Regions from separate parts of the Homo sapiens genome. Here all the other regions are linked to region 3. Evidence: fine-mapped expression QTL. A gene starts in region 3. Each other region holds a variant in brackets. All regions are shown on one strand. Distances are from middle to middle.

Region 1 (7,008 bases), 40 kb after region 3:
TCTGGGATGACAGCCATGTGCCACCATGCCTGGCTAATTTTGTATTTTAGTAGAGAGGAGGTTTTACTATGTTGGTCAGGAAACAGTGTGATCATTTTGGGTCTTGCTTTTATTTTTTGGTAGGTGGATCTGAAGCAGTGCTGCCTTAGTCTCCTTGGACTCTCAGCTCCATTTCCTCAGCTCAAGTAGTCCACTGGGCTCTACCTCAGTTCTGCCTCCTCTTGCTGTGGCCTAGAAATTCTCTCTGGATATCAGAAAACAAAGGACAGTAATCCCTGCCAAGATGGGATACAAACAAGGTGAGCCCCATGATTGCCCAAGCGTACTACCTGGAGTGTCTTCTTCTGTTTTTTTCTTTTTCTTTTTTTTCTTCAAGATGGGATCTTCCTGTGTTGCCCAGGCTGGAGTGCAGTGCCATGATCATGGCTAATTGCAGCCTTGAACTCCTGGCCTCAAATGGTCCTCCCACCTCAGCCTCCCATGTAGCTAGGTCTCCAAGCGCATGCTACTGTGCCCAGCATGGTATCCAGTGTCTTGAAACCACCATTGCATGTATTTTTGACGGGCTCCTTTGGTTGTTTCAGGTAGAAGGGTCAACCTGGTCCCTGTTACTCCATCTTGTCTGTAAGTTGAAGGCCTTGATGTTTTCTGCTTATCTCTTCATCATCTCCAAACGGTGGTGGTAAAGTCACTCACGACTGCTGTTTCCTTCAAGGGAGGAAACGTGCGAAGACTTTGCCCACACAATCTCAATTTGTCCTCATAACGTTGCAGATTTTTTTTTTTTTTTTTTTTTTTGAGACGGAGTCTTGCTCTGTTGCCGAGGCTGGAGTGCAGTGGCGCGATCTTGGCTCACTGCAACCTCTGCCTCCCGGGTTCAAGCAATTCTCCTGCCTCAGCCTCCCGAGTAGCTGGGATTACAGGTGTGTGCCACCACACCCAGCTAATTTTTGTATTTTTAGTAGAGACGGGGGTTTCATCATGTTGGTCAGGCTGGCTCGAACTCCTGACCTCGTGATCTGCCCACCTTGGCCTCCCAGAGTGCTGGGATTATAGGTGTGAGCCACTGTGCCCGACCCCAGTGCAGATTTTTTTAGTCTCAATCTCTATTTGACAGCTAAAAAACTGAGGCCCAGATGTTTGCTGGTTTGGAGCCCAGACAGGCCTGTTGGCATATATTGCTTCCTGGAGCTCCACAAAGCTCGCAATGTCTTGCTGCATAGTTGCTAAGGGAGCTGCCTCACCTGCACAGCAAGTCTCTGGCTCTTCATTCCTTAAGAGTCCCACTTGCAGCCTGGCTTTTTATGTGTACACACACACACACTCACACAAACTATCCTGGCTTTATTTGGCATGAACACATGCCTGGGTCTCATCCAGCCACTTGACATCCGAGTGAGACATGGAGTGGAATGGCTGCTAGGCCAGAGATCAGTGGTCAGTTACCCCGGCCTCTGACTCCAAGTCCAAGGCTCCTTCTCCAGGCTCAGACCCACACACTGGGTGGTGGTGACAAAGATCAGGACCCAGGAGTGGGTGGTACTCAGCCCTCACTGTGCTTAAAGATTCTGTGATTCTGTTTCTTCTCCTGTAGATCAACGTCTGGATCACTTTCTAATAAAATTCCAACTTTGCTGATAATTCTCCAATATACCCAAGACTGTAAATACTGATTTCCTTTCATGAAATTGTCCAAACAGCTGCAGCCCTTGGTGCACAGTATGATCTGGACCTGGGGCACAGCAAGACCAGAACCATGAACCACCATGAACCATGACTCCTCACTTGTGAGATGACGTGTGCAAGGTGACCTATGGTGCTTCATGACCACAGAAGTGACCACTCTACACTGTGAAATGAATTTCTGCATGGGGGGTATATTAGGGTTCTCTACAGGGACAGAACTAATAGATATATATGAAAGTTTATTAAGTATTAACTTACACAATCACAAGGTCCCACAATAGGCCATCTGCAAGCTGAGGAGCAAGGAGAGCCAGTTCGAGTCCCAAAATTGAAGAACTTGGGAGTCCGATGTTTGAGGGCAGGAAGCATCCAGCACGGGAGAAAGATGTAGGCTGGGAGGCTAAGCAAGTCTCATCTCTTCACATTTTTCTGCCTGCTTTATATTCGTTGGCAGCTGATTAGATGGTGCCCACCTGATTAAGAGTGGGTCTGCCTTCCCCAGCCTGACTCAAATGTTAATCTCCTTTGGCAACACCCTCACAGACACATCCAGGATCAATATTGCATCCTTCAATCCAATCAAGTTGACACGCAGTATTAACCATGACAGGGGGGAATGAGATGACACAAAGGATCCCTTCTGGCTCTCATGTTCTGTCACCATCTACTTCAGGAGAGAGATGCACTGTGTGGGGAGGATGAAAGTTAGAAGGAAAAGGCAAGAGAAATCAGGAGGGTTTGGTATTCAATGCGTGTTCATTTATTTTACACTTACAAAAGAAATCGCCCACCCCTTTGCCCCATTCCCCCAAAACAGTCTCTTTTTACAAACATTTAAAAATTAAAACCAAATGAAGATAGACAAGTTAATTTCAGTACAATTATTTTTCAGTGTAGCTGTCATAATTAGAGTTTAAATTTCCTACAAGTGACCAATGTCCAAGTGACTTATAGGGAAATCCTGATTATCGGCCAAAGGAAATTCAATATTACAAGTTAGCAAATTCTAGTACAAAAATAGTCCGTGTGTTGGAACAGCTTTCCTTTTACATAGGTCTTAGGTCAGTCTGCTGTAATACCTAACGCTTCCGGATTCTCTCTCACAAATGGCTCAATCGTCACTGCTGAAGCAGCATGGTGCCTGCAGCAGCAGGGGCTAGTGTCCACCTTGGGGCCGTGCTGGAGACGGCAGGCCTGGGACTGCCTTGCTGGCCCCAGGGCACCTGGGCAGAGCTCCAGCCCTAGCTCCGCATCGGGGGCTTGGAGGGAGGGATGAGCTTCCCCCTCCTGAGGCAATGTCAGACCCAGGACACAGGGCACATCTGCCCAGGGAGCTGGGCTGGCGCTGGTGCAGGACAGCACATCTCCTGCCAGTGTCTCCTCCCCCTACAGCCTGGTCAGGTGAGAGGCGGTCCTGCATGTCATCAGCGGCGAGAGTGTGGCCCTGCCCTTGCTGCAGCCAGGGCAGGCTGGGGCAGGCTACTTGTCCCTCAGGATGTCGAGCTGTTCCTGACACTCGGTGAAGAGGCGCTGGAATCGGAGGTTCTGCCCGATGACTGGTAGCAGCTCCTTCAGCAGCTCCCTCTTCCGCAGACCCTGTGGACACAGAGTGACAGCTGAGTGCAAGTGTCAGTGAAGAGACCTAGATTGTGGGGACTTTCCTGGCCTGGCAGAGAACCTTGTGTCTGCTCACGGGAGAAGGAAAGAACAATTCCTCTGCAGGTGAGAAACTGTGAGAGAGCTGTGGGGCAAATGTGCAGGATGAAGTGGCAGGTGGAATGGGAGCAACACAGTGTGGGGATAAAGGAGGATGAGGCCAATGCAGGGTCTGCTCCTCCATCCGTGGGCACAGCCACTGCTGACCTTATAGTGACTGAGCAGTTCCCTGACCATCCAGGGCAGGATGAGAGTAGAACAAGGCTGAGGGTCAGGTGGCTGGCCATTCAGGAGGGGCTGTTCCCTCATGCTGATGTTTGCCAGGGGTTTGAGGTCAAGCCCCAGGGCAAGGATGCACCTGGGGGGCAGTGACTGGCTTTAGTTTTCCAGCAACACAAATGAGGTGCCAGTATCCCCTGATGTGGAGGATGTTCGGATGCTGACCAAACTATGCTTAGTTGCCTAAACATCCTCCACGTCAGGTCATATTGGCACCACAGTCTGAAACAAGCATTGCCAGTTGGGGTCTCTGCTGCACAGACCAAAAGAGCAGACTCCTGAGCAGTACGGCTGCTCCAAAGGGAAAACTACCAGCCAGACAACTTTAACACTGGACGAGAAGGTCTAAGATCTTGAATTAACGGTGACAGATATACCTGCAACAAGTCTAGAAGTGACAGTAAAGAATAAGTGTAACTATTAGGTTTGAGTAACACAGAAGTTGTTAGAGATGGGATAAGCAGGAGAATGGCTGCTGTTGGCGACCAAGTTTGATGGAGGAGCAGCCCACACTCCAACAGGGAGGCTCTGACACCAGAGTGCCATAGTCAGAACAGAGATGGTATGGATTTGCAAAGGCTGAAATGTTTACTATCTGGTCCTTTACAGAAAAGTTTGTCAACTCCTAAAATAGATCATGTTTTCTAACTAAAATAATTGAGTAAAACTCATAGGTCAAAGGGGAATTCTAATTAAGTGAAATTAAAAATGACTTGCAAGAGAATGGTAAAAAAAAAAAACCAACACAAAATACTCCAAAAGTGGTAAGATTCAGCAAAAGTGGGCACTTTAGAGGCATTTAGAAACAACAGCTTATACTGTATTAGAGAACATGAAAGAATGACAAGCCAAGACTCCAACCTAAAGCCATCAGGGGAAAGGAAAAAAAAAAAGACTAAAGAAAAAAAGGACATGAGAAAAAAACATTTTTTTTAAAAAAAGGAGATAATAAAAATTGAAATAAATAAAATAGAAAACAAAGATTTAATAGAGAAGATTTAGAAAAACAATTTTATTTTATATATTTTTTTGAGACAGGGTCTAGCTCTGTTGCCCAGGCTGGAGCGTAGTGGTGCAATCACAGCTCGCTGCAGCCTCAACCTCCCAGGCTCAAGTGATCCTCCTGCCTCAGTTACCC[G/A]AGTAGCTGGGACTATAGGTGTGTGCCACCATGTCTGGCTAATTTTTATATATTTAGTAGAGCGGGGTTTCACCTTGTTGGCCAGGCTGATCTCAAACTCCTGAGCTCAAGTGATCTTCCTGCCTTGTTCTCCCAAAGTGCTGGGATTAAAGGCGTGAGCCACTATGCCTGGCAAAAGTCATTTCTTGAAAAGACTAATGGACAAACGTCTGGCAGGATTAATCAAGAAAGAGAGAGAAAGCTTAAAGAAATAATATTAGAAATAAAAAGAGACATAACTACAGATATAGAAGAAAGAAAAAGATATGATTACTATCAACTTTATGCTAAGAAATTTGAACATTTAGAGAAAATGGAGAAATTCCTAGAAAAATATAATTTATCAAAACTAGCTCAAAAAGAAATAGAAAGGAAAAGTTAATTATTACCATAAAGAAAACATCAGGAATACTATTTTAAAACTGACATCAAGGATGAGATTTTCTTTGTCTTTCCTTTCCCACAGTTTGACTAATGTGTCTCAGTGCAGGTTCCTTTGGGATTTTCCTACTTAGAGTTCACTGAGGCTCTTGTATTAGTAGACCCCCGTCTTTCCTCAAATTTGGAAAATTTCCGCCAGTATTTCTTCAAATAAGCTCTCTACTCCTTTCTCTCTCTTACACTTCTAGAACTCCCATTATGGATTCATGGGTATACTTGGATGGTGTCTGGTAAGTCTCTTAGACTCTGTTTGCTTTTCTTCATTCTATTTTCTTTTTGCTCCTCATACTTGATAATTTCAAATGACCTGTTTTCAAGTTTGCTGATTTACCCTTTTGTCTATTCGAGTCTGCTGTTGAACCCTTCTAGTGAACTTTTCAATTCAGTTATTGTATTTTTAAACTCCAGATTTCTGTTTAGCTCTTTTTTTGGAATTTCTATCTCCTTGTTGATACTCTCATTTTCTTTTTTTTTTTCTTGAGATGGAGCCTCGATCTGTCGCCCAGGCTGGAGTGCAGTGGTGTGATCTCGGCTCACTGCAAGCTCCGCCTCCTGGGTTCACACCATTCTCCTGCCTCAGCCTCCCGAGTAGCTGGGACTACAGGCGCCGGCCAGCACGCCTGGCTAATTTTTTTGTATTTTTAGTAGAGATGGGGTTCCACCATGTTAGCAAGGATGGTCTCGATCTCCTGACCTTGTGATCCGCCCGCCTTGGCCTCCCAAAGTGCTGGGATTACAGGCATGAGCCACTGCACCCGGCCCTCATTTTCTTCATATATAGTTTTCCTGATTTTGTTTAGTTGTCTGTATTCTCCTTGAGCATTTTTTAAGACATTTATTTTAAAGTCTTATGTCTGATGGGCACAGTGGCTCATGCCTGTAATCTCAGCACTTTGGGAGGCCAAGGCGGGCAGATCGCTTGAGGCCAGGAGTTCGAGACCAGTCTGGCCAACATGGCGAAACCCCATCTCCACTAAAAATACAAAAATTAGGCCAGGCGCGGTGGCTCACGCCTATAATCCCAGCACTTTGGGAGGCTGAGGCGGCTGGATCACTTGAGGTCAGGAGTTCGAGACCAGTCTGGCCAACATGGCGAAACCCCATCTCCACTAAAAATACTAAAATTAGCCAGTCCTGACCTCAGGTGATCCACCTGCCTTGGCCTCCCAAAGTGCTGGGATTAAGGCATGAACCAACGCACCCGGCAGTCCTTTTACTTTTAAGCCATTGTGTTATTACATGTAAGCTGGGTTTCTTATAAGCAGCATACAGCTGGTTGTTATTAATTCTAATCTGATAATCTATGCCTTTTAGACCTATATTTAATGATTATTGATATATTAGGGTTTAAATCTACCATCCTATGTATGTTTTTCTGCCTTCTTTTGAATGAATGTATTATTTTCTATCATTCAATTTTATCTATTTGTTAGTTTTTTAGCTACGATTCTTTTTACTGCTTTGGGATTTGTATGTGTATGTGCATGAGTTTTATTTTTTGGTTTTGGTGGTTGCTCTAGGGCATATAACATACAGTATATGCCTTTACTTATCATAGTCTGTCTTCAAGTATTATATCACTTTGCATAATGTGTAAAAATCTTTTAATGGTATACTTTCATATCCCCACTCCTGGCGTCTGTGATACTGCTGTCATGCCACTTCACTTCTACATATGTTATAATTACAAACTACATTTTCATTATTTGGCTTAAAAAGGCAGAACTTTTTGACTTTTTTTTTTTTTGAGACAGGGTCTTGCGCTCTGT
Region 2 (7,412 bases), 210 kb after region 3:
AAGGCAGGAGAAGCCCAAGTTTCAGGCCTGGAGCTACGGCCTGGACAGGTCACCTTGGCACAGCCCACTGCCCTGTTGGGCCCTGAGTCCCTTCGTGTGTTAAGAGTAGCATGGAATTTGTGCACAGATAATGTAGGGGCTAGAAACACCATGGTGTATGCACTGATAGGCACTGTTCCTGGTCTGTAGCAGTCTCTCAGGTGAGGCCCCCACGGTCACTGTCCTGGTTGGTGGCCCTTTGGAACCTAGAGTGGGGTCTTCCTGCTCTCATTGTGCTCAGTGGCACTTCCTGTACAGGATCTGTACCTGAAACTGTCCCTATAAACTTTACAAAATTAATGAGGGCAGGGGGAGGGGAGAAATGAAAATGAACCCAGCTCGCAGCACATCAGCATCAGTCACTAGGTCGGCGTGCTCTCTGCCTGCTTCCTCGTAGCTGCTTGGTGTCTCATTGCCTCCGAAACATGTAGACCCTGTCACAAGATTGTAGTTCCCCTAACTGCTCCATAGATCACAACTTGAACCTTAGGAAATGCCGTTTTCCCTTTGAGATATTTCTTTGGGTCCCACATACTGATGGAGCTACTGACTGAGCTGCTCCGAAGGACCCCACGAGGAGCTGACTAAACCAAGAGTGCAGTTTGTACACCCTGATGATTACATCCCCCTTGCCCCACCAATCAACTATCCCAATTTTCCAGCCCTCCACAGTCTCCCTAAAAGCCCCAGCCCAAAACTCCTCAAGGAGATGGATTGAAGATCTCCTCCCATCTCCTTACTTGGTGCCCTGCAATCATGAAACTCTTCCTCTGCTGCAAACTCTGCTGTCTCAGTGTAACAGGTCTGTTACTGCACAGTGGACATATGGACCGCCTGGTCCTATAACACATTTTGGAGGCCGGGCGCGATGGCTCACCCCTGTAATCCCAGCACTTTGGGAGGCAGAGGTGAGTGGATCACCTGAGGTCAGGAGTTCGAGACCAGCCTGGCCAATATGGTGAAACACCGTCTCTACTAAGAATAGAAAAATTAGCTGAACATGATGGCACACCTGTACTGTAGTCCCAGCTACTCGGGAGGGTGAGACAGAGGAATCGCTTGAACCCAGGAGGCGGAGGCTGCGGTGAGCTGAGATCGTGCCACTGCACTCCAGTTTGGGCAACAGAACAAGACTCCGTCTCAAAAAAAAACAAACCAAAACAAACAAAAAATTATGGAGAGCCTACCTGAAGCCCCTTATGGGTATTTGCCTGCGGCTAGGTGCCCCTTCACTGTTCGGTGGGCAGGACCTAGAGACAAGCCCAAGTGGCCACTGGGCTCCATTGAAATATGGGCTGTTGCTGGTGCCCTGCCTGTTGACGGAGCAGTGTCAACCTTCGGTGCATAAACTGCTCGCAGCAAAGACAGTTTCTGGTTTTCAAAGGCATTAGAAAAGTTTTCTCCATGCAACTGGCACCCCTTTCTCTTCTGATTTGCTGGCCTCCTTGGAGGTCTTGTGGCCTCCTCAGAATCTTGTGACATATTATAACCCTTTCTTAACTGGAAATGACCCAGACACCCAACAAGCATCTAAAATAATTTTAGGATTTTAAGCTGCATGGAACGTTTGCCTAGAAGCATTCATACAATTTACATTTCATGCATTTTTAAGTTTGCCTAGATTACTTATGAAAACTGAGAGACAAAACTAGTCATCATTTCAAATTATTTTATTGTTAACCTTTTTCTTTTTTTGAAATGGGGTCTTGCTCTGTCTCACAGGCTGGAGTGTGTTGGCATGAACGTAACTCACTGCAGCTTTGACCTCCTGGGATCAAGCAATCCTACCACCTTAGCCTCCCATGTAGCCGGGACTACAGGCATGTGTCGCCATGCCTGGCTAATTTTTTTGATTTTTTTGTAGAGATGGGGTCTTACTTTGTTGCCCAGGCTGCTCTCAAACTCCTAGGCTCAAGCAATCCTCCCTCCTCAGCTTCCCAAAGTGCTGGGATTACAGATGTGAGTTGCCACACCTGGCCTTCTTAATCATTTTTATAGCCTGTGACCATCAGATGTTCACCTAAGAACCTTAAAGTTAAATGCATGTGTATTTTTGCTGACAACTCAGAAGATTCAGCTGTTATCATTAAACCAACAATATTCATCTTATTTGTCAAAAAGTCATACAAAGATCATTCTGGTTTTGGTTAGTTTTACAGTCTTAAAACCTTTTATGCAAAGTCCTGACACCCTAAATATCCAGTAGAGACAAATATAAAATCGTTCAGTCAATAAACTCAGAAAAAAGATGTACGCTGATAGTTTTGAAGACGTTTCTATTTTTATTTTACCAATAATTTTAAAGCCAGCTTATTTACTAAAGATCATTTAAGTCACATGAAGTTGAAAAATATTTGAACTTATTTACTTTGTTTATGAGCACTCATTTATTTATAAGCCAATTTGGTAGCATGTAGGCACAACACATAACACAACATGTACATACATCTAAATTTATTTTAACCCACATACACACACATACAAAGGTACAGCTTTTACTGCAGAACTCTAGCCATGAGACAGCAGTACAAACTCACCAGTTTATAAAAGAGGGCTGGATCCAAATTATTTCTGACAAAATTGGAACCATTCACATAAATAAACTTTGTTTATCCCAGTAGGTAATTCAGTGAAGGCTGTGAACTAAAATTTTGAATAAAGCAGTTTCTATAGCAGTTTGATTTTAAAAACTTACCCTTTCTTTTTTTCTCCAGTTTCAAGTTTTCAATGATTACATTTTAGCTACAACTGGCTGAGCTGTATAAGCAAAACAAAATCTCCAAGTAGCTCTGAATAATACCATAGACAGTGAGTCTTTTCTCAATACCAGTAGCTTAATAATACCAGATTCAAAGCAGACAGAAAAGAGACAGGGGTGATGGCTCATGCCTGTAATCCCAGCACTTTGTCGGGGGTGGGAGGATTGCAGGAATCCAACCTAGGTAACATAGAACCCCTCTCTATAAAAATAAAAAAAAAATCAGCTGGGCATGGTGGTGCATGCCTGTGGTCCCAGCTACTTGGGAGGCTGAAGTGGGAAGATTACTTGAACCCGGGAGGTCAAAGCTTCAGTGAGCTATGATTGTACCACTGTCCTCCAGCCTGGGCAACAGAGTGAGACCCTGTTTTAAAAAAAGAAAGCAGGCAGAAACTTTCTCATAGTTTTTCCACAGGAATTTCTTCTTTTAGTGGGTAGGTTACCCACTGCACTATCCTGATGAAGATGTACGTCTCTTGTCTTCCCAGTTTCACAAGATGCAGCCCAGTGCCCAGCTTGGAGTAACCAAATCAATATTTCTCATTCCAGCTGAGACGATATACACACAACAAAAATGCAGACACTGATCATTCCACTCTGCGCCCAGATTTGACGTGGCGAGGCTCATACTTGCCCCTGTCAGCCCCCAGCACCTTTGATCTACTCAAAGTTGGGAGGAATTACCTCCAACCAGGAGTTCAGCGGGTGGTCTCTGGGCAAGATGAAAAAGTATATGGTCAACCTGAGTTAGGCCTGCTGAGCTGCTGCTAGCAATTCCTTCAGGGATCCCTTTCACAAACATAAACCTACATAACAAGACAAAGACAAACAAAAGGCCTTCCGAAATCAAGTTCCAAATTTCAGAAGTCAAGAGGATTTCTCCCAAGCAGTGCTCTTTGGTCTCCTTCCAATGCAGAGGAAGTCCCCTCAAACGAGGCCCTTCCTATTATTAGGGAGGGTCGACAAGACCTCAGAAGAGGCCTCGAGACTTCAGAGGGAGCCACAAAACCTTTGAAGAGGCCACAGGACCTCCAAAGAGGCCAGCAAATCAGAGGAGAAAAGGGTGCTGGTTGCAC[G/A]GAGAAAACTTACCTAAGATGCCTTTCAAAACCAGAAACTTGCTTTGCTGCGAGCAGTCTATGCACCAAAGGTTGACATTGCCCTGTCAACAGGCAGGGCACGGGTGGCAGCCCATATAGTTCAATGGAACCCAGTGGCCGCTTGGGCTTTGGGCTTGTCTCTGGGTCCTTCCCACTGAACAGCGAAGGCGCACCAAGCCGCAGGCAAGCAAATGCCCACAAGGGGCTCGAGGCTAGACTCACCATAATGTGTTATAGGACCAGCAGGTTTGTATGCCTGCTGTGCAGTAACAGACTTGTTACACTGAGACAGCAGAGTTTGCAGCAGAGGAAGAGTTTCATGATTGCAGGGCACCGAGTGAGAAGATGGGAGGAGATCCTCAAATCCATCTCCTTGAGGAGTTCTGGGCTGGGCTTTTTTGGTTTTGTTTGTTTGTTTGTTTTTGAGATGGAGTTTTGCTCTTGTTGCCCAGGCTGCAGTGCAATGGCGCTGTCTCGGCTCATCGCAACCTCCGCCTCCCAGATTCAAGTGATTCTCCTGCCTCACCCTCCCAAGTAGCTGGGATTACCAGTATGCAGCAACACGCCCGGCTAATTTTGTATTTGTAATAGAGACGGGGTTTCTTCATGTTGGTCAGGCTGGTCTCAAATTCCTGCCCTCAGGTGATCTGCCCACCTTGGCCTCCCAAAGTGCTGGGATTACAGGCATGAGCCACTGTGCCCGGCCTGGGCTGGGGCTTTTAAGGGGACTGGAGGGTGAGGGGCTGGAAAATTGGGAGAGTTGATTGGTGGGGCAAGGGGGATGTAATCATCAGGGTGTACAAACTGCACTCTTGGTTTAGTCAGCTCCTCGTGGGGTCCTTCGGAGCAGCTCAGTCAGTAGCTCCATCAGTATACAGGACCCAAAGGAATATCTCAAAGGGAAAACAGCATTTCCTAAGGTTCAAGTTGTGATCTACGGAGCAGTTAGGGGAACTACAATCTTGTGACAGGGTCTACATGCTTCTGAGGCAATGAGACACCAAGCAGCTACGAGGAAGCAGTCAGAGAGCACGCCGACCTAGTGACTGATGCTGATGTGCTGCGAGCTGGGTTCATTTTCATTTCTCCCCTCCCCCTGCCCTCATTAATTTTGTAAAGTTTATAGGGAACATTTCACCCACTCTGCTGTGGATCCCTGTCACTTACGGAGTCTGTCATCTTGGCTGTATGGGCTGTGGCCTCTGCGGTGCCCATTCTCAGGAGGTGTGAGACCCATGAGGACCGGAGGTGGACAAGGCTAGAGACCACACCCCCCCGCTCCATCCAATCATGTTTTCCTGGGTGCTTGGTTTCTATGCAGGCTGCATGTCCTTAGTCCCTGCATGGGAACAGCTCCTGTGGTGAGCAGGCCCCTGAGGAAGGCCTTGAGCGGGAATGGAGCCTAGGCTTAGGCTGCCTGGTAAGAGCTGGAGGGAACCAGCCGAGGCTTGTGCTACTTTTTTTTCCAGAATGAAATACGTGACTGATGTTGGTGTCCTGCAGCGCCACGTTTCCCGCCACAACCACCGGAACGAGGATGAGGAGAACACACTCTCCGTGGACTGCACACGGATCTCCTTTGAGTATGAGTATCCTTGTGGCCCAGCCTGAGGGGCACAGGCAGCACCCCTGCTCAGCAGGCCTTGTTTGCTTTGTCACCCTCTGTGGGTTCTGGCCACATCCCCAGGAGGGAAAGCAGGTGGGGCAGGAAGTTTTGGGGGAAGGGGCTGTGGTGTGCTACCCCAGCTCATCTGTGTGGCTTTGGCTTCTAAATGCCAGAGCTGAGTTTGGAAGTATCACCCTTCTCCAGCACATCCCTGTAAAGTGCTTATTGTGGGCCTGGCTCTGGACATGGTAGCAGTGCGGGCAGTGGTTCACGCAGTCAGGAAAGAAGGCAGCTGCCATGTAATCACACAGCGTGACGTGTCTTTTGAGAAGCACATGGGACATTGGTGGAGTGCTCAGAAAAGACCATGGGGAGACCACATCTCACACAGTCTCAGCCACACTCAGTGTGGCAGCTGCTGTACTGAGCACAGGAGGGGCTGGGGGACTGGCTGGGGTCAGGTGTCAGGAGGCCAGAGCAAGCCTTGTGAGCCAAGGGCAGCGGGAGGCTGTGGAGTGACCAGAGTTTGAGTCAGGGTTTTTAAAAGGTCCCTTGGCTGCCCAGTAGAGGTAGGTTGGGGGCAAGGAGATGGTCACTGCTTTCCAAGGCCACACAATAGTGGCTTGGCCCAAACTGCAGCAGTGGCTGTAAGCAGTCAGATAGCATGATGTCAGGGACGGAGCTGCCCTGTCTCTGCACTGTGATGGCTGGGAAGGAGGAAGAGTGAGGGTGGACACGTCAGTAGTCAGGTGGCCATCGGAGCCTGGGGAGCGGGGTGGAGCTGGCTGAACTCCTGGGGAGGGGAGCCGCTGTGCACTGGAGCTGGTCCCATCATGTGCGTGGCAGGGTGGGCTCACTTACCCAGGGACCATGGGAGTGTGTGACTGAGACAGGAGGGAGGGAGTCAGGGAGCTGAGGATGCTGGGGCTTGAGGAAGCTGCTGGAGTGTGGGCAGGGAGCATGGTGGTCTGAAGGCCTGGGAGTTCCCAGGAGTTGGGAGGGGCAGTGGTGGGAACTGAGCATGCCGAGGAAGCAGGCAGGACCAGGCTCTCGTCCTGTAGAGGGGAAATCCACCGTGGGGGACAGTCCACACTCACAACTGCGCTCACGGTGCCAGGGGCAGTGATGGATATGTTTAAGAAAAGGGCTGAGGAGGTCGGGCGCTGTGGCTCACGCCTGTAATCCCAGCACTCTGGGAGGCCAAGGCAAGTGGATCATGAGGTCAGGAGATCGAGACCATCCTGGCTAACACGGTGAAACCTCGTTTCTACGAAAAATACAAAAAATCAGCCAGGCATGGTGGCGGGTGCCTATAGTCCCAGCTATTCGGGAGGCTGAGGCAGGAGAATGGCGTGAATCCAGAAGGTGGAGCTTGCAGCGAGCCGAGATCGTGCCACTGCACTCCAGCCTGGGCGACAGAGCGAGACTCCGTCTCAAAAAAAAAAAACGAAAAAAGGGCTGAGGATGGGGGCGCTTCGTGGATGGGGTCCCAGTGGAGGGCTCTCCGGAGGAATGGGTTGTAGGGAGGGCTGGGCTAGGTGGAGCAGGAGGTGCAGGACGACAAGCTGGTGACGCCCAGCCTCCTACGTCATGTGTGGCCATGACTGCTCCATGTGACCACAGCACCTGGACTTTGCAGACCCCTGTGCTCCAGATTCTCTGCCTGTCAGACGGATGGTGGTCTATGCCTGTCACTTCACAGGCTCTCTGTATGGGTCAGCTTAAGCTAAGAAGGTCAAAGGGCTCCAGGTCACTCTTGGGATACCTGGTTTTGCAGGCAGGCCTGGTGAGAAAGGGCCCCGCCATCAGAGTGGCCCACCTGCTGGAGTTACGAGAGTGCTCAGGGCGGCCAGTGGGTGCTTGCATGCTCCTTGACTGCAGGCCCAGCCTCCGCCTGGTGCTCTACCAGCAC
Region 3 (7,412 bases):
CAGTAGTGATGCTGGCATATTGTTATTATTGTTCTGTTTTATTATTAGTTATCATTGTTAATCTCTTACTGTGCTTAACATAAATTCAGCTTTATCATACATATGTATGCATAGGGAAAAAAAGTGTATAAAGGGTTCAGAACAATCTGCAGTTTCAGGCATCCTCTGGGGGTCTTAGAACATATTCCCCATGGGTAAATCGGGACTACTGTATTATGTAACAGTTATTGTTTAATGCTTTACATTTATTAACTCAAAAACCTCACAACTACCTTGTGAGATAAGAAGTATACCTTTTATCCTTATTTTATAGATGAAGATATAGAAGCACAAAAAAGCTACAAACATTGCCCTAAATCACACAGCCAGTAAGTGCCTGAGTCCACATTCAGTGCCTTCAGTTTGGCCTCAGTCTGTGCTCTTAACCAGGACCTGCTACTGCCTCACACACACACAGCAGTGAAACTGCGAAAACACTCGGATGGCTTGGGAACATCAAGCTTATGGGAATACATAACATCACCAGCAGCATGTCCTGAATGAAAAAGCAGAGGGGCTCAAGACAGATTCCAAGCTCATGCACAAGAGCCGCCCATGGGGCAGTGGGTGTGGGCAGAGAGGAAGGAGAAACCCTGGGAAACTGTGGAACCAAAAACAGTAGAGAAAGGACCCTCAGGAGGCAGTAAAGTGCAGCATCAAATGCGGCTGGACATCACAGAAGATGCGTGTGGTGTGATGGGCTTTATCTCACCTAGCTCATCGCATCTTATTTTTTGAGACGGAGTCTCGGTCTGTTACCCAGGCTGGAGAGTAGTGACATGATTTTGGCTCACTGCAACCTCTGCCTCCCGGGTTCAAGAGATTCTCCCGCCTCAGCCTCCTGACTAGCTGGGACTACAGGTGCGTACCAACACGCCCGGCTAATACTGTATTTTTAGTAGAGACGAGGTTTCACCATGTTGGCCAGGCTGGTCTCGAACTCCTGATCTCAGGTGATCCACCCGCCTCGGCCTCCCAAAGTGGTGGGATTACAGGTGTGAGCCACCATGCTCGGCCTGATTTTATTTTTTACAGCAAAGATTAGCCAACTGCAGCCTGCTTTTGTATGGCTAAACTAAAAGTCTTTTTCATATTTTTAGAAGGTTAAAAAATGTAAGAATATGGGACAGAGACAGAATGTGGCCCTTACAAAAAAGCCTGCAGGATGGCTTGTAACCTTGGCAAAAACAGATTCAGGGGAAAAAATGGGGACAAAAGCCAGACTGCAGGTTACTGTGGAACATAAAAATAATGAAGCACTAAAGCAGCTCTTTCATGACATCCAGCTATGAGACAAGAGCTTCGTGGGGACAAGAGCGGGGGAAGAAGTTTGCTGGTTGTACAGATGGAAGAGAGGTGAGCATTGCCCAACACAAACAGGAAGAAACAACAAGACAGAAGGATGAAAATACAGGAAAGGGAGGCTATGACTGAACGAGGCTCCCTTATAGGGAAGAAGGATACCAGATCCAGAACATAGACAAGAAAGGACACCTACTTTTGAGGTAACAGGAAGGCAGGAAAGGGTGGCTGCAGACAAACATCTAAGTCTGCAGCCATATAGGTGAGAAACATCCCAGTTATGGCTTCAGTTTTCTCCAAGTCATCTGCTGGTTGCAAGGCAGGAGTGGCAGGATCAGGGATTTAAGGAACAGGCTGAAGTCTCGAAATGTCTGTAGTGAAGGCAGTGTGTGCTGACTCAGTGTTTGCTCTACAGAATGCACAGCAGCCTCAAAGACCCAGTCAGTGTTAGAGACCACAAACCAGACTTGCATTCACGTGGCTGCCCACCACAAGCCACAAGCATTTTCCAGATAATGGAACATATCAACTCTGATGGACATTACAAATCCTGATGGACATTAGAAACTCTGATGGACACCTAAAATATCTTGTTGCTTTCTTGCCCTTTGAAAAGAACATATTTAGATAGTGGTTAAGCACAGGCATTGGAATCAGACCTGGGTTAGAACTCAAGCTTTGTCACTTACTAGCCATGTAACTTTTGCTGAAGGAATTAGAATATTAACCTCAGTGACCCATGGTAGAAAACAGGATATCACTATCTGCCTCAGTTATCATGAGGATTAAATTAAACCAGATTTATAAAATACAGTAGTCTAGTGAGTGGCAAGAGAAACGGCTCAGTAAATGATAACTACATCATCATCATTATTATGAGCAGCAGCAGTATTTTGCTACCTCAACATGACTGGTGCTGGCTTAGCTTAGTGGCAGAATGAAGCCCGGACAGATGTCAGGGCACTCCCACCTCCATACAACTTCCACTGTGTCACTAACCAAGTGACCCTGGCAGGATCCCCTGGATATCAAGTTTCCAGTCTGCAGAATGAGGGGACTGGACTGCACTACACAGTTCCCAAGGCTTTTCCCGTCTGCATCTAGGGCTAACAGTGCTCTGCACTGTGAAAATAGGAACTTTCAAGCAAGCACGTTCCTCGATGTACTACTTTGTGGTCAAAAAGACTTGAGTCTGAATCCTGTTCTTATTGAATGAAGATGAGTTCTTTAACACTTTTGAGACTCGGTTTCCTCATCTAGAAAAGAGTAAGCGAATCGCAACGAATGGTAGTGTGATGATTTAACACAGAGCACTCAGGGAGGAGCCGCTGGCTATCCCTCCTCTGCCGCACCTCCCAGGGTAAACGTGGGGACCAGCACCGCTCCCGGGCAGACCCGCGAGCGGCCCGCACGACGCCCGACCTGAGCCTTTGCTCAAAGCAGGGGGCCAGTCCTTATGTTTCTGAACACAAACAAATGGAGAACAAACTGGGACCTTATTAAAAAGGCAGGCTTTGGGGGTGTTACTGCATTGAAAAGCCCTATTTAGGCTTGGCCCTGAGAAATTTTTCTCTTGGGTCACGCATGTTCACGGTCCTCCCAGGCGAAGCCGCCCTGGGGACGAAAACCGATCACAGAGGCAAACTCAGGGGCGAATAAGGACCGCAGGACGCCAAGGAGGGGCGTGGAGCTGTGGGATCCGCGCGGCCCTTGGGTTGCCCTGCCTGCAGCGGGAATTTGTGTGCCTCCTCGCGGGCACTGAGCGGGGCGTCCCAGGGGGCGTTGGCTTCCACCCCCACCATTCCCCAGCCGGCCCCGCCGGTAACGGGCTTCGGCGACGGCACCCAAGCGGGTCCTCAGGAGCGGCCGCCGCGCCCGGGACGCCGCAGCCCCAGCCCAGGTGGGAGGTCGGAAATCGGCGCGGCCAGCTGGGCAGCGGCTCAGCGGGGCTGGGGGCGCGGGGTCAAGCCTGGCAGTCCGGCCCGGCGGAGGCGCGGCTGACAGGGCAGCCCCCCAGCCCGCCGGGCCTCACCTGGAAGTGCTCCTGAAAGCGAACAGGGAGGATCTGCGCCATGGCTGGTGCGGGACCTCGGCGGCGGCGGCGGCAGCGGCAGGAATGAACGCCGACCCCTCGCGCGGGCTGACCGGTGGCGACGGCGCAGGCGCAGTGCCCCGAGCTCCCGGTCCTGGCCCCCGCCCTCCTCCCTGACCGCGCCCCGGCCCGCACCCCCTTTCCCCGCCCCTTCCCCCGCCCCTGCCCCGCCCCTGCCCCGCCTCTGCCCCGCCCCTGCCCCCGCCCCTGCCCCCGCCCCTGCCCCCGCCTCTGCCCCGTCCCGCCTGCGCGGATCCCTCCGCCCGCTCCGAGGGTCCGCGGAAAGTAGTCCCGCGCGCCCTCTGCCCTGACGCGGTGTGTGCCAGCTACCCGAGTGAAAGGTTTTCGGGGGATTAATCCTGATGGGGTCTGCGGCGGCCCTTGCCCAGCGCCTTCCACATGTGGAGCGGGCCAGTGGTGCTAGTTCTGCCGCCAACTCTGGACGGTTGAGTTCAGGGCCACTTTTTACTCAGGCACGGATGTGACAGAAAGATGGAAAAGGGTCTTGGAAGAACCACATGTGCCGTATAACGAACGACCTTTTGGTCTGAGGAGGACCGTGTATATGACGGTGGTCCCATAACATGATAACGGAGCTGGAAACTTCCTGTCCTCTGGTGAGGGCTTAGCTAAGGACATTTCCTCTCCTGTATTTGGAGATACACGTACAGGTATGTCATTACCGTGCCAGGGGAATAACGCACCTCACACGCGGTGCGGGTTTGCGGCCTAGCAGCAGCGGACCGCATCAGCTGCCTAGTTGTGTAGTGGCTGTGCCATCTGAGTTTGTGTAAGTTACCTTGTGATGATCCCACAACCGAGACGCATGTCTCAGAATGCATGGATGCATGGGACGCGTGACTGTACGTGTTACAGACGTGTTTCGGCGTGAGGCTCGGCCCCTGCTCCTTTAGGAAACACCTTTCCTGGCTCATGCGGTTTCTAGAGAACACTGTGTCGGAATATCAATGTAGAGAGTCAGCGAAGGTCATCTAGCAGCAGATGACCAGCCCCAGGCCAGTGAGGATCACCCAGAGTGCCCGTGGCTGCACGACAGTAGTAGCAGGTGGAAGCTGGAGCCCACACCTGGTTTGCCCAGCAGCCAGTTGTTTTTCCGAGGCACCGTTGGCTGATGTTTTGCATACAGATGATTCAGCTGCATAAAAGATGTCTGTCAGGAAAGGGAAGCCCTTGGCATTCAGCACAGGCACTCCCTACGGGGTAATCGATAGCCGTCTCTGCTGCTTCCCATGTTGCTCACTGGTAATTTTAAGAAATGAACGGCCCACCTTGAATAAGACAAGGATGGTGCAATTATTTGCGCAATGGCTTGACCATCTAGTAGCCAAAAATATGTTAAGGAATAGAACAGACTGTTCACTTTCAAATTAAATCTCTTTTCCAGTATTAGCCAAGACCTCTGCAGCCCGCCCTTTCTAAAATCCATGTGGCCTCATCCGCTAAATATAGAGCTGGGTTTTGCTGTGGTTAGTACTACATTTCCCAAATCTCTTTATTTTGGCAATGATGCCTGTGACTCCAAGTACCCTTTACCCCAAACATTATATAAATTTTTTAGTAATTAATACCATCACTCCCTAAATCACCTTCCCCAGGGCTTTTTGGGGATTAAAACTAAAATTTTATACCCTAAAAGAAAGAATTTAAGAAAATCATAGTTAAGCAAAGTGACAGGATTGTTAATACGTCGGGACCTCAAGTGGGGATTAAGTTTCAACATTAATTTTAGAGGAGACACAAATCTTTCTGTCTCTTCAAACCATAGAAGAGACAGAAAGCACAACAGTTATTTGAATAGACAGAAGTGAATATAAGTGATAGTTGTAGTTAACAGGAAATAAAGTTGTTAATATACTTGTAAAAAAATTAAATGTTCTGACTTGAAAGGGACTTTAATATTCTCACCACTTGTAGGTAACTTGCTAAGTAACCCTAAAAAAACCTTTCAATTCTTTTTTTTTTTTTTTTTTTTTTGAGACAAGAGTCTCGCTCTGTCGCCCAGGCTGGTGTGCAGTGGCACGATCTCTGCTCACTGCAACCTCTGCCTCTCAGGTTCCAGCCATTCTCCTGCCTCAGCCTCCCAAGTAGCTGGGACTACAGGCGCACGCCACCGCACCTGGCTAATTTTTCATTTTTAGTAGAGACAGGGTCTCACCATGTTGACCAGGCTGGTCTCAAACTCCTGGCCTCAGGTGATCCATCCACCTCGGCCTTCCAAAGTGCTGGGATTACAGGTGTGAGCCACCGCGCCTGGCCCGGGATTAAGTTTCAACATTAATTTTGAAGGGGACACAAACCTTCAAACCACAGAAGAGAGAGAAAGTGCATCAGTTATTTAAACAAAGGGAACTGAATATAAACAATAGTTAACAGGAAGTAAATTTAAAATAATAAAAAGAAAATCCCAAGATATGGAGTTACAAACATAGGACACAGCTACCACCCCTAGAGCTCAAAGATGAAAGAGAAGCTGGAATTATTACAGCTTAAAGGAAGGGCTTGCAGAGCTGGAATTCAGATCTCTGAGGAGGTGTGTTGACCAGCTGGGGCTGGGGTCATTGAGCCCAGAGGAGAGATCCCATGGGGATGGGACTCAGACCTCTGAGGAGGGTCCCTACGGGACTTAGACACACACTATGGATGAGGGGTGGCTGTGGAGCTGGGAGTAAGCCCTCTAAAGAGGGCACTGGGAGACTCTCACCCAGATCTCTAAGGAGAAGGCATACTGAGGCTGGTTCTGCAAGTCTTGGAAAAACTTAAACTGGATTCAGCTTCTGTGGGAAGAATGTGCTGCTGCCTTGTTGAAGAAGCCTAGCTGGGGTGATGCTCACAGGAAGTGGCCCTGTGGTCTCCCTCTATCAACCTATCAGCTTAGTCTAATAGGGAATATTAGATCAGATCTTCTTTATTTGCCAATGAGAAATATGTTTTTTAGAGTCTCAGCCCTGGCATCAGAAGCAGTGTCTAGAGGTGGGAAGGGAGAATAGAGCTGAAAGACATTATTTAATAACTGGTACAAGAAACGACATGTTATAGCTAAATTCCAATTCCCATGGGACTTTCCTATAGGTGGAATTGAAAAGTCTGTGGAGGCGTATAATCGCAGCGCTTTGGGAGGCTGAGGTAGGAGGATTGCTTGAGCCCAGGAGTTCAAGACCAGCCTGGTCAACCCCATCTCTTCAAAAAAATTTAAAAATTAACAGGGCATGGTGATGCATGTCTATAGGCCTAGTTGGGAGGCTGCAACAGGAGGATCACTTGAGCCCATGAGCTCAAGGTTACAGTAAGCTATGATCGTACCACTATACTCCAGCCTGGGCAACAGAGAAAGACCCTGTCTTTAAAAAAGAAAAAGTCACTGGAGGACTTTAGTTTTCAGACAGCTTCAGAGAACTAAAAAGGCAGTGAATAATTATGAGGCCAATATCAGAGAGAAAGGACATGAGAGAGGTGAGTGGTTTATGGCTGCTTTTTCTTGAAAGGCATCTGCCAATTCCAGATGAATGTTTGAGACACTAGGACTCTGAGCAGCACTTTTAACACTCTCATTGCCCTAGGACGACAAAATTTGGAGGCTTGGTACCACCAAGGAGGTATCCCACTGTACTGTTTTGGGACCACAAGTTGTTTGGGACTCCATTCAAATCATGTCAGTCCTTGCCAGCAGCAAATGTAAATCTTCCCTGGGAATGATAACCTCATCCATGGTCTCAAATTACTTCTACAATTGTTCATATGCAGTGTTCAACACTGAATCAAAAATAAGTAGGCATCCAAGGAGAAAAGACAAAATGGTTGCAAAAAACAAGAGCAAGCCTGGACAACATAGTGACACCCTGTTTCTAAAAAACTAATAATAATAATAATTAGCTGAGCATGCACCTCCAGAGTCTGAGGCAGGAGGATGGCTTGAGCCCAGGAGGTCAAGGCTGCAGTGAGCCAAGATCACACTGCTGCA
Region 4 (7,142 bases), 110 kb before region 3:
AGGGGCGGCAGCAACTGTGCAGCTAGGATCCCCTCACAAACACACTGAGTAAGAAAGAGAAATAAGAATGTGCCCCCCATGAGCTGGGGTCTGGGGGGGGCTGAGAAATGAGGAGGAAGCAGGGGGCACACTTGCTGACACCTAGGGTGAGGGCTGAGCTAGGCCTGTACCCTCCCTACAATGGGAGAGCGCTGGGGGCGTCTCAGAGGGATGGCCCTCAAGCTTCCCAGATGAGCCACGAGGCCCCAGGCCCAGCTGTCCACCAGGAAAGGACTGTGCTTCTTGTCCGCGCCCTCATTCTCCCAGCACTGCTGTGTGGTGTCAGCTGAGCACCAGCTCAAGCTGACAATCAGCTCACACCCCCATGCCACTGACTGGGAAACCCCTTGCCAGCCCCCTCCTCTCCTTGAACTCTCCCCATGACAGGCGTCTCATCTGCCCCAGCAGGAATAGGTGGGTGGCAGCAGAGAAGGTGCTCCAGCAGCCACCACCTCCCAGGGCCAGTGGAGTCTGGGAACCCTGGGCCAAGGCTGTGCAGCCACAGTGTGGACCAACGTGATAGTGGCTGCTAACTCCATCATCCGCAACAGAAAGGGAATGTGCGCCTCAAAGTCCTGGGGGATCCCCACAAGCACTTTGACCCCCACAGCAATGACACTCCCTAGGGCCTGGTGAGCCTGAGTTCCTCTGACACTAACCCACGGGCCTCTACTGCCAGGAAGAGATTCAAGCACTTTCTTTCCTTGTGCTGGTTCTCAGAACACAGACTACTTTCAGGAAAGACACCCGAGGGATGGGAAAACCTGCTCATCATGGTGACAGCAGCTTCCACAGGCACGCACCAGACACCGCACACCACACACTGCATACCACAAACCACATACCACACGTGCCGCCTGTAGGGAGTTGCCATCCACTGTGGTGGGGGAACCAGGGCCCTTGTCAATCCAACCAGTCCATGTCCCCTGGCAGCCCACGAATCTCAGGCCACGTAGCCAGGGCTGTCCCTTCCTCCCCAACCCTTGAGAGTCATCAGGGAGTCTCACTCAGGCATGCTATGCAGATGGGATGGGGTCACACTGTCCTACAGGAGGGCAACGGCCTTGAATGGACTCTGGGATGGCCTTTATCAGGGGCTGGGCAGCCCCCTGGAGGCTCTGCAGGCGGCAGGCAGCCCTCCAGGCTAAAGCTGGCAGCATGAGCCCGCCTTCCTGTTTCCTTCCTACCTCCCACTCACCTGGGAGGCCCCTCCCTTCCCTCGCTCCACTGAGTGATGCTTCAGCATGAGTGCCTTCCGAGGCTCTCCATCTGGCTTGAAGGAGGTTAGATAGGCAAGTAGATGCTACTGGAAGTAGCTTTTCCAGTGTTAGAAACAACAAACTGTACCAGATGACACTGCTGACACAGGTCTCTGGACAGTGGCTAAAGCTAGATCCCAGCAGGGACTCCTAGGACTTCAACACCCAGGGAGAGTTTTACAATCAAGTACTGTCACTTCGATGAGGCAGAGAGTCATCCTCCCTATAGCTGTTAGAAGGATTCAGTGGATCTGTGAATACTCCTACTATGTGTTCAGCAAAAGGCAGCTACCACCAACCGTATGCTAACAGCTGCACCCCCAGACGCCACTGGGAGCTCCTCAGGGAGCTGGGATTGCCAGCCACCTCACTGTCACCTTGTTGAAGTCCAGGGCTGGGGATGAGCACGCCTGTTGTGCTCCTAGCAGTGTGCACATTGGGACAGCTGCCCAGCCAGAGTCTACAGGAGGGCTGCTGCCAGTGGGCACTCCCCATGATGATTTTCTGGAGGGGCTTAACGTTGGGCAGAAAACCACTTCAGCATGAAGGAAAGCAGCCACTCCTGAAGGCAGCCAGGGCTGGCTGGGGAATCTGGGTTGGCCTCAAAGGGGCCCACCCTTAAGACCTGCGGCCAGAGTCACTGCCAGGGTTGGGTCATGCCACACAGGGGCCGGGGAGCTGCAGCCGGCCCGGCACCTACCTTGCTCAGGTACTCCCTCATCACCTGGATGAAGTAGGGCATGGCCAAGTCCACGAGGTTGTGCCTCCAGGCCAGCTCAAGCACCATGTCTGGGCGAAGCAGGTCATAGCAGGTGAAGAGACAAGCTGCGAAGCACTCCCTCTTGCCTTCCTCCAGGAACCACTGCAGCAACTTCTGGGCCAGCTCAGCATCCCGCGACTCTGCAGCATGCTGCATGGCATCCTGCAGCCAAGGCAAATGCTTGCTTGGGCATCCTGCAGGCAGAGGCTTTGTGCCTGCAGCAGCTGGGCCGGAGGGCAGGGAGTGGCACTAGACTCCACCAAGGACTTCCTGCGCTGTGGAGCAAGCCTGGACCCATGGCTGGGCCATTCCCTATGCCCTGCTGCCCACTGGTGAAACGGAGATGCCACCTCCGGAGGCTCTGGAGGGGACAGGTGGCTCACGGAGGCGCAGGTGCCCTGGGAGACAGGAACTCTAGCCCCGAGGGCAGAGGGCGTGCACAGGCTGCTCTGAGGAAGGCACTGATGGGAGTTTGGGGGTTGTGGGGCTGCTGCAGAGGTGCTGCACTCAGGTCCATGGAGCGTGTGACACCAGGGGAGCAGTTAGGAGGGGTACGGCTACTGCTCTAGAAACAGCAATGTGTTTTTCTTTCAAGTGGCTCAAAAACCCCTAACTGCTATTTTCATCCTTGCAAATGTATTTGTCTAAGACAATATCATTGACAAAATAACACCTGCACCTGACCAGTCCTGAAGAAGCCTGCACTTTCTGTGGCCATTCTCTATTTTCTAGCTCCACAGCAGGCACTGGATCACCTGATTCCTTCTATGGCAGGGGCTATTAGTACCCCATTCAGAGACCAGGAACCTGAGACCCAGATGTAGTCACTTGCCCAGGGCCACTCCACCTGGAGTTGGCCATGATCCACTGACTGTGACCTGTGCTCTCCAGGGATACCCTGTGGCGGTCCCAGCTCTGCATGCCTGCCATCGCCTGCAGCACACACCTCTGAGTTCCGTTTGGGAGACCCCTGAGGACGCCCAGTGCCCACATCTGCATGGACCCGATGTGCTGAGCTGGCTCCGGAAAGAAGTCTCCCCCGC[T/C]GGCATGCTGCTCATCGATCGCTGCCTCCTGACCCACACTGTTCCTACAAAGGCACCAGGATTCTGACCCTCAGGTGAGAGCTCCAGGTGCCTTTGGGTCTCCGCTTTGAGGACCTGTGACGCCCGCTCATCTGTCTCCCTGCCGTGCCCTCCACCGGCCCAGCCTACCCTTGCTGACTTGTCTTCCACATGTGCCTAAAGTGGGCCCTGCTCTGTTCCTCCTCTGTGGGCCTTGGGGACTGTCTCACTGCCTTCCCAGAGGACTTCCAGTAGAAGCAGCCCCCAGGAAGCTCCCAGTCAGTGTCCCGCTCCTGCGGCCTGGAGCCCAGCTCGAGTCAGGCTCTCCCACACCCTCCTCTCTCATCACCTCCCCGGCCCATGCCACTCTCAGGGAGGCTTCATCCTGGTCCCCATCCCTGTGTCCAGCTCTCCAGTCTACACCTGTACTTCCGCAGGCCCCTGCTCTTCACTGGTGGGTGTGGGAGGGCCCCACTGACCGAACTTTCATTTAAATGCTACTTCTGTCATCTGGAAATACAGTTTTCTGTTGCTAGCTGGCTTTGCCCTGACTGGACACGCTGTGACCTGGCCACTCCTCCAGGAAGACTCCAGGAGGCTTCAGCTCTGGCCTCAGGGCAGGCTCCTCCAGTGGCAGTGCTGACCTTGGGAGGTCTGGGGAGCCGCCTGTGCACTGGGGCTTGTGGGCCCCATCCCTGCCTCTACGGCCTATACACAGCACCACGCCCTAAGCTGTGACAACCAAACATTCCCTGGGGTCACAGTCATTCCTGGCTGACAGCCACTGTTCTGGGGGAAGCGCGCTCGGCCACTTTCTTTTTTTTTTTTTTTCTTGAGACGGAGTCTCGCTCTGTCACCCAGGCTGGAGTGCAGTGGCGTGATCTCTGCTCACTGCAAGCTCTGCCTCCTGGGTTCACGCCATTCTCCTGCCTCAGCCTCCTGAGTGGCTGGGACTACAGGCTCCTGCCACCACGCCCAGCTACTTTTTTGTATTTTTAGTAGAGATGGGGTTTCACCATGTTAGCCAGGATGGTCTCGATCTCCTGATCCTGTGATCCGCCCGCCTCGGCCTCCCAAAGTGCTGGGATTACAGGCATGAGCCAACGCGCCCGGCCCTGTGCTCGGCCACTTTCTATCTGTGGCTTTGTCCTCTGGACTCTCTTCTGGGCCCACGTGGCTCGGAGTGGGTGGCTGGCAAGGCCAGTAGGCCTCTGGCAGCACTGATGGCCCTGCTCACTCATCACTGCCTGAGTGTTGAGGAGGCTGTGTGTTTAAGCCCCTGACAGGGACCACATGGGTAGGACAGAATGGCTGTGATCAGCCAGCCGAGGGCAGCCTTCCCTCAGGTGCGTCTGAGCCCAGCTGTCTCCTCCCAGCAGCCAGGTCCAGAGACCTCCAGGTGCGGTCTCAGAGCCTCAGCAGCTTTTCCTCTCCATTCCCTCTGCAGGGGCCCTGTGGGCACCTCAGGAAGGATCACAAGCACTGTCACCAAGGGCTAGGATATGTCACAGAACAGTCCAGAACACTGGAGGTGACAACTTAGGGTGAAACTCAATGCAACACTGATGCAGGCATCAGAGGCCTCCACGGAGTCTGAGCCAACAGCCGCAGACCAGGAGCCATGAGAATGAGGCCCCTGTGCGGGACAGGAAGTGGCAAGTATCCATGTGTCCTGTGAAGATACTCAGGAATGCCTAAGGCCAACTCCGTAAGTAACACCCTCAGGTCAAGTCCAGAGTCTTTGGGCACAAGGAGCCCTTGGGAATTGGCTCAGCTGCATCACACAGCACCCACAAGGGCCCTCTTGTACAACTCCACCTCACCCCCGCGGGGAGATGTTCAGGCCAAGCAGAGGATGTTAATGCCTTCAGGGTCTTGGGGGTCCCTCCAGGCAGCCCAACCTGTCTAGCTGATGCCCAGATCCCGGTCTGAGAATGATACTAAGAAACCTCTCACCAGCAGAAAAAACACAGTTTCTTTTTCCTCTCAAGTGATCCTCCCACTTCAGCCTCTAAAGTAGCTGGGACTACAGGTGCACACAACCGTACCCAGCTTTGAAACAAATGTTTTGAATGTGATTTATTTATTTTTTTCCTTTTTTTTTTTCCGAGACAGAGTCTCACTCTGTCACCCGGGATGGAATGGAGTGGCGTGATCTCCGCTCACTGCAACCTCCGCCTCCTGGGTTCAAGCGATTCTCCTGCCTCAGCCTCCCAAGTAGCTGGGATTGCAGGAGTGCACCACTACACCCGGCTAACTTTTGTATTTTCAGTAGAGATAGGGTTTCACCATATTGGCCAGGCTGGTCTTGAACTCCTGACCTCAAATGATCTGCCCACCTCAGCCTCCCAAAGTGCTGGGATTACAGGTGTGAGCCACCACGTCCAGCCTTTGAATGTGATTTTAATTTAGGTTTTTAAATTCCTCAAATCTTTTTTTTTTTTTGGAGACAGGGTCTCACTCTGTTGCCTAGAGCAGTGGTGTGATCATAGCTCACTGCAGCCTCTGACTCCTGAGCTCAAGTGATCCTCCCTTCTCAGCCTCCCGAGTGGCTGGTACCACAGATGTCCATCACTACACTTGGCTAATTTTTTGTAAAGATGGGGTCTTGCCATGTCGCCTAGGCTGGTCTCAAACTCCTGGGCTCAAGCACTCCACCCACCTCAACCTCCCAAAGTGCTGAGATTACAGGGAAGTTCCCAAATCTTGATAGGAAGTAAAGTAGGTGCCAAGAAGTGAATCTTGCCACACTGTGTTTTGGTAGAGTGAAACTCACACAAAACTGCTGCGAAAAGAATCAACTCCGTAAAACTCTACAAGTCTTTCAATCCAAACAGTTTTTAAGGGGTGCTAGCTCACTCCCAATTCTTACTCTATGTTCTAAATATGGTCTCCCATTAATACTAATCCCCCCACCCACCACGAGGATCCCCTGGTGAAGCTCAGAGCCAGGTCTCAGGAACAAGAGGGAAGGGATGTGACCCCCAAAGCCATCAGGAAACACACCAAGGCAGGAAGGTGGGAGGAAACGGGCCCAGGCCACCAACCTTGTAGAGATGATCCTTCTTGCAGAGCTCCACGCTCTGGGCCCACCAGTTATTGCCCTTGTACAGATAGGCCGCAATGCACCTGAACTCCATCAGCTGATGCTTCTCCAGCTGCTGAGCCAGGCTGATGTTGTCAAAGTTGTCATAGGCATCGATAGATGCCCTTAAGCCCTAGGAAGACAGCCTTTCTGTGAGGGATGGGACACTGACATGGGCTGCCTACACATGGAGCAGGCACCTTGTGTTACTTGATGGCTGTTGCTATCAGCACAGCCTTAGAAAGGCCCCTGCCCATATATCCACTGGTGTCCTGTGGGGCCTGCACACCCTCCTGTGCAAAGGCAGCCTGCTTTGAGAACAGAATGGCAGTTGCAGGGGAGGAGCCCAGCCCACCCAGGACAGGGCTCCTTCCTGCACACCCACCTGATAGTCCTCCTCCTCTGTCAGCAGGTGGTTGAGTGCCTCATTCACACTCTTGTTGTTGTGGCTCTGGACTGACCGCAGGTAAGGCTTCACCAGGGGCAGCTGACCTGCCTGACAAGTTGAGGGAACCGTCAAGGCACTTGGCCAAGCTTGTTATGGGGACACTAGGCAGGGGCACAGGTGGGCACGTGCGTGCCATCCACTTGAATGGTCCAGCTCTGGAGCCAAGGGCACCTTCTGGACACCTAGAACCAAAAGACCTACACTCACACAAAGAGGACTGTCTGGGCGATTCAGTGGATGCCAATGTCACCACAGACATTCACACCTTAGAGAGACACATGGGTTTGGGTCCAGACCACCACAATAAAGTGAACATTGCAATAAAGTGAGTCATATTAATTCATGTTTACACTATGTTGTAGCCTAAGTGTGTAACAGCATTATGTCTACAAAAACACAGTACACACCTTAATTAAAAATATTTTAGTGCTAAAGAATGCTAACAATCATCTGAGCCTTCAGTGACTCGTAATCTTTTTGCTGGGGAGGG

The links. PIP is the estimated chance that this variant, and not a neighbour inherited with it, causes the effect.
Region 1: its variant is fine-mapped to the expression of CLTCL1 in whole blood (TOPMed, PIP above 0.99).
Region 2: its variant is fine-mapped to the expression of CLTCL1 in whole blood (TOPMed, PIP 0.95).
Region 4: its variant is fine-mapped to the expression of CLTCL1 in whole blood (INTERVAL, PIP above 0.99).

Annotation. Positions count from the first base shown.
Region 1 is chr22:19,328,275-19,335,282 of GRCh38, forward strand. It overlaps HIRA (histone cell cycle regulator), which reads right to left. Exons shown (of 25, transcript NM_003325.4): 25 at 2,424-3,282. The coding sequence ends at 3,166. It overlaps LOC105372859 (a long non-coding RNA gene), which reads left to right. Exons shown (of 6, transcript XR_938002.3): 2 at 124-299; 3 at 1,701-1,806; 4 at 3,280-3,408; 5 at 5,428-5,469. Among named protein-coding and RNA genes, the nearest start is that of CLTCL1, 40 kb to the left of the region's middle. The variant G/A (reference allele first, on the strand shown) is at 4,760.
Region 2 is chr22:19,499,999-19,507,410 of GRCh38, forward strand. It overlaps CDC45 (cell division cycle 45), which reads left to right. Exons shown (of 19, transcript NM_003504.5): 10 at 5,364-5,483; 11 at 7,388-7,412. Among named protein-coding and RNA genes, the nearest start is that of CLDN5, 21 kb to the right of the region's middle. RefSeq lists enhancers at 5,873-6,373, 6,374-6,874. The variant G/A (reference allele first, on the strand shown) is at 3,874.
Region 3 is chr22:19,288,227-19,295,638 of GRCh38, forward strand. It overlaps CLTCL1 (clathrin heavy chain like 1), which reads right to left and starts at 3,493. Exons shown (of 33, transcript NM_007098.4): 1 at 3,374-3,493. The coding sequence starts at 3,415. LOC105372859 (a long non-coding RNA gene) reads left to right here and starts at 3,721. Exons shown (of 6, transcript XR_938002.3): 1 at 3,721-4,104. RefSeq lists an enhancer at 2,682-3,195 and silencers at 3,306-3,490, 3,372-3,611.
Region 4 is chr22:19,181,392-19,188,533 of GRCh38, forward strand. It overlaps CLTCL1 (clathrin heavy chain like 1), which reads right to left. Exons shown (of 33, transcript NM_007098.4): 28 at 6,590-6,700; 29 at 6,167-6,337; 30 at 1,999-2,220. Among named protein-coding and RNA genes, the nearest start is that of SLC25A1, 6.2 kb to the left of the region's middle. The variant T/C (reference allele first, on the strand shown) is at 3,102.